Homo sapiens: one gene and its partner. The protein of the gene in region 2 purifies or fractionates together with the protein of the main gene of each other region. This does not show direct contact. Each region holds a gene or a part of one and is shown on either strand. Other genes may lie near its edges. The genes, in order: ITGA6 and SIPA1L3.

The links.
Region 1: the proteins of SIPA1L3 (region 2) and ITGA6 purify together in Homo sapiens (affinity purification with mass spectrometry; one large-scale study listed by BioGRID and IntAct). This does not show direct contact.

What each region holds. Positions count from the first base shown.
Region 1 is NC_000002.12:172,472,436-172,476,253, forward strand, and holds part of ITGA6 (integrin alpha-6 isoform b preproprotein), read left to right. Parts: intron 1-338; coding exon of another isoform or gene 339-455; intron 456-1,619; coding exon 1,620-1,830; intron 1,831-2,493; coding exon 2,494-2,687; intron 2,688-3,161; coding exon 3,162-3,250; intron 3,251-3,818. UniProt on the Homo sapiens protein: Integrin alpha-6/beta-1 (ITGA6:ITGB1) is a receptor for laminin on platelets. Integrin alpha-6/beta-1 (ITGA6:ITGB1) is present in oocytes and is involved in sperm-egg fusion.
Region 2 is NC_000019.10:38,081,551-38,085,368, reverse strand, and holds part of SIPA1L3 (signal-induced proliferation-associated 1-like protein 3), read right to left. Parts: 5' UTR 3,804-3,818; coding exon 2,270-3,803; intron 1-2,269. UniProt on the Homo sapiens protein: Plays a critical role in epithelial cell morphogenesis, polarity, adhesion and cytoskeletal organization in the lens.

The DNA of each region.
Region 1 (3,818 bases), on a different chromosome or scaffold from region 2:
ACTTGCTGTCAGAACATTTGAAAATATGAAGCATTTTTTCTCAAACACATTTGCCACTTTTAGAATGGATTTCCTCAAAAGTGAATGCCTGAGAAAGAAATCAAATTCATATTGTTACATTCGGTTTGTCTGTACTGTGTGGAATCTGTCACTTCAAAAGATCAGAGGGTTTGGGGGAACAAAACGATCTGCTTGAGGTTTTGGAAGCTGGCAATGAGAGCAGCTTGCCGGATGCAGTGGTGGCCTCCTCATCCAGCGAGAACAGCAGTGGCTGTCCTGCCTCTTACCAAGCATAATTACTTTTTCTTCAATTTCTTCCGTCCCGTGCATGCGTACAGGCCTGCTGTTTTTGACCAGCGTTTCCTATACAGATCCTGATCAGTTTGTTTATAAAACACGGCCTCCCCGGGAGCAGCCTGACACATTCCCTGATGTGATGATGAATAGCTACCTAGGTTTGTGACCTCTGCGACGACAAATAAATTGTCTTGGTTGTGGTCATTAAATTTTTTTTTTTGATCCATACAGAGCATAAATCTTTTTATGCCCTATTTTGTTTCCATTGAAGCACACACAAAAAGCATGCCATGGCTGGGGCTCTGTGGCCAGATGGTTGTAAGAGCTGGACTCCATATTGCCCTCTAATCTGGTGGCTCATGTTTTTCAATTCACTTCACAATTTGAGAACTGCAACGGTAGTGGTGAAGCTTTTCATAAGTAAAACCCAATAAAGGGGGTGAGCTTATATTATTCTGCATCTGCCTCACCTTTCTATAGAAACATTTACTTAATTTGAATGGTTTTGATATGGGCACTTCTATTTGCTTTTCACCAGATCTGTTATTTGTAATCTGACATCCTACCTGATGCTTTATAATGGGTGTGTCCTAATGTTTTCTGCCCTCTGAACAAGTATATAACTGATACCAATGACAACTTCCTCACCTCTGTTGTTTATACTAGGTTCTCAAATACCATGTATCATCAGTCATTGTTTTGTCTGCATGTTTGTGTCTGAGAACTAAGTTGGTCCAAAACAATGAAATGCTATCTATGGTGTATTAATGATGTTAGCATTTGTTTTTGTCTGATTACCAAAGAGTTGATGCCTCTTACCAAGCTTAATTACTTTTTCTTCAATTTTATTTTATTCCTGTAAAAATACTGGTCATTAAATTACAGCAGAACCCTGTAACATGCACTCAATTATGCTTCCAGTCAGGTTATATATTCTCTGTGTATATGATGTAACATAACCAAATTATTCCTGGACAATTCAGTATCTAGCTTGATCTCCTTTTACCATAGTTCCAATATTAAAATAGGGTGGAAATTGATTCTTAAGATGTATGAATACTTCAAAATTCAAGTTATACATAGGTGCTTTTAGTTAAAAGTCTTAATATCCATAGAAAGCAGTAAATTAGCTAGCCCCAGGACTTTGTCCTTGTGTCACATCTGAACTCTGTCACTCATATTACGAATGTGATAGCTGGTGGGAGGGTCAAGAGGAGAGAGGGGTGGGAAGCCAGAGGAAGAGGTAATGATGGAGTTACCAATGTCATAGGCCTAAAATATATGGATTGATGTGAGGGGCTCTATATATTTTGTTTTTCTAGGTTTTTCTTTGGACTCAGGGAAAGGTATTGTTTCTAAAGATGAGATCACTTTTGTATCTGGTGCTCCCAGAGCCAATCACAGTGGAGCCGTGGTTTTGCTGAAGAGAGACATGAAGTCTGCACATCTCCTCCCTGAGCACATATTCGATGGAGAAGGTCTGGCCTCTTCATTTGGCTATGATGTGGCGGTGGTGGACCTCAACAAGGATGGGTGAGAAAGCCTCAGGTTATATTATGCTGCAAATCATTTCTGCTTTGACTAGCTTCTATACGACTGGAGAAGAGCCGTCCTTTCAGGTTCATTGACGTAAAGAATATTTTTATTGCCGCATTTTTACCAGCCTATCTTTATCATTTCTATGATGGCAGCAGACAGACATTCATATCCCTCCCCAGCGTATAGGATTATATTTTTGATTTTCAGTTTTTACTTATATGTTGGGATCATGAGTCTATGAGAATTAAAATTTGAAAAAAATTGACTCAGAAAACACTTGCATGATTCTGTTCTGTGGTTTCATATGGGGCTGATGGAGCATCAGCTCCCGTTGAAAACAGGAATTGGTGATAAAGTAAAAAACAGATATGTGGCTGTTGGTGCCAGTTGGGGGGGTTAGAACAGTGAGGTCTTAATGGGAGTCCTGCTGTACTATGGTTCTAACTCGAGAAATTGGCTTTGAGTTCTTACCCTTAGTATTTTTCTTGGGGCGTTTATTATAGGCTACCTTGGTTTTTAAAAAATGTTATAATTGAGTCATAAATTCTGGAGTTGAGGGCCTTTCTATTATATGTCTTTGTATCCTTAGTACCTAGACTGGTGTTGCTGGTATGTTAGCTGTTGGTTCACGGCTCTTTCCCCTCATTATGTTTTTAGGTGGCAAGATATAGTTATTGGAGCCCCACAGTATTTTGATAGAGATGGAGAAGTTGGAGGTGCAGTGTATGTCTACATGAACCAGCAAGGCAGATGGAATAATGTGAAGCCAATTCGTCTTAATGGAACCAAAGATTCTATGTTTGGCATTGCAGTAAAAAATATTGGAGATATTAATCAAGATGGCTACCCAGGTAGATAATAGATTATGAAATGGCTATGATTTATAGATTATTTGATTGTTTAAATAATAGCGCTGCTGGGCACAGTGGCTCACGCCTGTAATCCCAGCACTTTGGGAGGCTGAGGTGGGCGGATCACCTGAGGTCGGGAGTTCGAGACCAGCCTGACCAACATGGAGAAACTAAAAATACAAATTAACTGGGTGTGGTGGCACATGCCTGTAATACCAGCTACTCCCAGCTTTGGAAAGCTGAGGCAGGAGAATTGCTTGAACCCGGGAGGCAGTGGTTGCGGTGAGCCAAGATTGCGCCATTGCACTCCAGCCTGGGCAACAGGAGCGAAACTCCATCTCAAAAAAAACAAAAAAAAACCCCGAAAAAGCCAAACAAATAAATAATAGTGCTTGTGTCATCTTACTTTAAAACATTTTACTAGAGTGTTTCTAAAGCGTTTGTTAAAATGTTAAAATGTGATGTTGTCAACAGATATTGCAGTTGGAGCTCCGTATGATGACTTGGGAAAGGTTTTTATCTATCATGGATCTGCAAATGGAATAAATACCAAACCAACACAGGTAACCAAATAACCGGGATTTCTACAGCTAGAGTCTCAACTTTTTGCCCTATAATAAAATATTTAGGTTTAAGTGACTTTTCACACAAATCTTATTTTATTTACAAGTCCACAATAGTATAAATTTTTTAAAAATGTATTACTAGAAGATACCTTCAAAATAAATATATAAATGTAATGACTTGCTTGTTCTAATTGTAAAATTTCTTAGATAAGTTAGGAATCAAGGTAATCCAAAGCAAATGAATGTTATTCTACCCTGACGGCATTAAGATAAGAGGAAATACGATATATTCTCTTTAGTAGCATACTAAATAGAGATGAAATTGGTCAAACAAAATAAATGACTGTAACTACATGGAGAATGTAGACACCAAAAATTAAAAATGTCTTTTGAGAAAAATAAGACTTGTAGGGAAGGTAGGGAGATTTGGTTTGAAATGGCCTGATTGACTTAATACAATAAACAAGCTCATCAGAAATGGGCTCTTTTCTGCTTTGAGATACTATGTAAATCGGATGACTTTTATGAAATGAAATGTATGAAGTGTTAGATCATATAGAAATTT
Region 2 (3,818 bases):
AGCTGGGACTACAGGCGCCCACCACCATGCCCGGCTAATTTTTTGTATTTTTAGTAGAGACAGGGTTTCACCGTGTTAGCCAGGATGGTCTCAATCTCCTGACCTTGTGATCACCCACCTTGGCCTCCCAAAGTGCTGGGATTACAAGCGTGAGCCACCGTGCCCGGCCTGGAACTTCTTTTTTATCCCTTTCTTTTCAATCTCTGTGTCATTCTGTTTGTGCATGTGATATTGATATAATCATCTTCATTTGTCACACAGTCTGAAGGGTAAAACGTATCACGTGGATCAGCTATGGAACAGATACCCCAAACCGAGGGCTGTCTGACTCCAAGTTGGAGCTCCAGTGTCCTGTGGGATGACTTAACTGACATTTGTTATGTTTGACAAGGATATTACTTTAAATATTTTTAAAAACTAGTTGCTGTGAGCTGGGCATGGTGGCTCACGCCTGTAATCCCAACTCTTTGGGAGGCCAAGGTGGGTGGATCACCTGAGGTCAGGAGTTCGAGACCAGCCTGGCCAACATGGAGAAACCCTGTCTCTACTAAAACTACAAAAATTAGCTGGGCATGATAGCGAGCGCCTGTAATCCCAGCTACTCAGGAGGCTGAGGCAGGAGAATCGCGTGAACCCAGGAGGCAGAGGCTGCAGTGAGCTGAGATCGCGCCACTGTACTCCAGCCTGGGCGAGGCGACAGAGCGAGACTGCCTCAAAAAAAAAAAAAAAAAAAGAAAAAGAAAAAAACAACAAAAAAAAACCTAGCTGCTGTGGGGTACTAGCTGCTAGTACTTCGTCTTTTTTTTTTTTTTTTTTTTTTAAGAAAAGCCCTCTATTCTTGGAAAAGAAAAACTTTGTCTAGCTAAAAACCTGCGTTTCCCAGCCTCTTTTGCACACAGGTGTGGCCACTAAGTGCAAGTAGTTGGACCGGGCTTCTGAGAAAGCTCTTTAACGCATTTATGCCGGAGGCTGCAATTTTTTGAATTTTTCCACAAGTAAAAATTCAGACCCTGGCAATGTCCTTGAGCAGTAGGCTATAACTCCCACATGCTTAGCGTTCCAATAATGAAACACTAGGCATAAGGGCATAAGGGGGTTGACTTGACAAGAGGTCTGCCTTTTTGTCCTTACCCTTTCCTCTTTTTCTCTGCCTGGAAACACAGATGTGACGCCTGGCACTCCAGCAGCCATCTTGGTGTGGAGCAGTGGGGGATCATGCCATGCACTAAGGCTGACCATACTGATGCTTAAGACTGACCATACCAGCCCTGGGCTGCTGAACTCTGGATTTCTTCACAGGAGAGTCCCTTCTATGTTGTTTAAGCCTGTTACTAGCAGTTACAAGCAATTCTCAATTTTTTTTTTTTTTTTTTTTTGAGACAGAGTCTCACTCTGTCACCCAGGCTGGAGTGCAGTGGCATGATCTCAGCCCACCGCAACATCTGCCTCCTGGGTTCAAGCGATTCTCCTACCTCAGCCTCCCAAGTAGCTGGGATTACAGCCACATGTCACCATGCCTGGCTAATTTTTTTGTATTTTTAGTAGAGATGCGGTTTCACCATGTTGGCCAAGCTGGTCTTGAACTCCTGACCTCAAGTGATCCGCCTGCCTCAGCCTCCCAAAGTGCTGGGATTACAGGCGTGAGCCACTGCGCCGGGCAGTTCCAAGACTTTTGTATTCGCTGCTCTGTTCTGGGAACAGTGTCTGCAATTTGCACATGGTGACTTCAGCTTGGTACTCAAACTGCACCTGCCTCGGAGGCCCCCTCTGACCATCCCCCACTGGGATCTGCCCCCACCCTCCGACACTCCATTTCCTTCTTCCCTGCTGTACTCTTTTCCACTGCATTTAGCAGCCTACAATCCCTTGTGTATTTTTCGTATTTATCCTGTTCTATGTTTGTGTTACCCATGAAAACATTATAAGTACTAGGAAGACAGAACATTTGTTTTAAGCTGGTTGATACTACATCCCCAGGCTCTAGAGAGTGCCTGGCACTGAGCTGTCCCCAAGTCCATATGTGCTGAGTAAATGCAGAGCTGTGTCCTGTAGCTCAAGGTTTATGGAGTGCTGCTGTGTCAGACACAGGGCTGAGGCCCGGGTGGCTCTGCTCACCGGATCCTCACAGCCCTCCAGAAGGGAGGTCTCTGTTCCCGCCACATCCTCAGTGCCAGAGCAGGGCCTGGCACAGAGTGAATGAATGAGTAGTGGGGGTCTCGGAGGCAAGCCTCGGCCCACCCAACCTTCCCACCCACACGCCATCCGTCACCTTTGCCCACGAAGTAATCCTGGTAGTAGCGGGCGCCCAGGTCCACATGCTCGATGCTGTACTGCCGGGGCCGACTCTGCGTCCGCTGCTGCTCCTTGGGAACTTCCAACACCGAGATGCTGGCGTTGGTGCGGTAGGCGCTCAGGGCGGGCTCTGCCAGGTGGCCCTCGCCGCTGCTCGGGGAGCCCACGGAAGCCCGGGAGAAGCTCACGTTGCGCTCACACTCGCCCCCGATCTCATTGCGGAAGTGCGGGCAGCTGAGCAGCAGGTCGTTGCTGTTGTCATCGCCGAGGTCCTGCTCCAAGTTCTCCTTGCAGTTTAGGTCCTCTGTGCTGGTGAAGGCCGGGTCCAGGCCTCCGAGGCTGTGGGCCCGCGAGGCCGTGAGGGAGGCCATGGCCGAGGCGGCGGAAGCGGCCGAAGCACCCGTGGTGGTGTTCCGCCGCTGCGACACCGACACCCTGTTGGCGGCCGCCTCGTTGAGGTCGAACAGCATGCTCTGCACGTCGAAGTGGGCGAAGCTCTTCTGACACACCCACGGCCTGCTGGCTTCCGGGGGGCTCCGGCCCTCGTCGGCCTCCCCCGGGGAACGCCCAGCCTCCCCCTCGGGTTTGCTGCTCCTTAGCTTCCGAAAGATGGACGAGTCCACCGTGTCCCCGCCGCCGAGGCCCCGCGCAGGTTTCTTCCGGGCCTTCTCCTTCTCCTTCGTGGGCTGCAGTGGCAGGAGGCTGTCCTTGGCGGGCTGCCCGTTGTGGGAGTCCCCCTTGGCTCCGCCGCCGCCCCCCATGAGGTGTGGGCCAGGATCTGCCCGGAGGAGCTCGGTGAGGGCCTGGCACCCTCGGGCGTCGGGCTGCTCGCTGCGGAACTCGTTCAGGATGTCGAAGAAGCTCTGCTCGGGCATGCCCTGCACGTCGATGGACGAGGTGCTCCCGTACTCGCGGAAGAGGGGCAGCGCCCCCGTGTGCCGGGCCCCCCGCGGCTCCCCCGCGTCCTCCGCGTCACACTCGCTGAGGGTGATCTCGCTGCTGCTGCGGTGCCGAAGGGGGAGGAAGGCCCTGCCGGGGGACCGGGGCCACCCGTCCTGGAACTCCACGTCTTTGGACCTTCTCCTGGAGAGTCGGTGGAAGGCTTTGGACCCTGAGGAAGCCGGGGTGCTGGTGGGGGGCTGTCCGTTCTGTATGCTCCTCATGGAATGGGCCATCTTGGTGGCCTTTGTGCCATCTGTGTCCTGGGAGGGGCTTGGGTTGCTGTGCTCTCTCAGGGCCTCCCGCTTGGGCGGCCAGTCGGCCACCCTTGCGCGCACGCCCATCTTGGGCATTGCGGGAGTGGTGGGGCTGGGGCGGGTGGTGGCGGTGGCGGTGGCGGTGGCGGTGGCCGGGCTCTCGCCAAGAGGCTGGGACATGCTGCCATTCTGGGCCCAGAATCCCAAGGGAGCGTAGTCCCCTGTGTGTGGCCCAGGGAGGACATCGCCCACCCTGGCGCCACAGCTGGCTGCCAGGTCCACACCATCGCTGGGGATGGCCCGATAGGTGGTCATAGTCCACGGGCACTG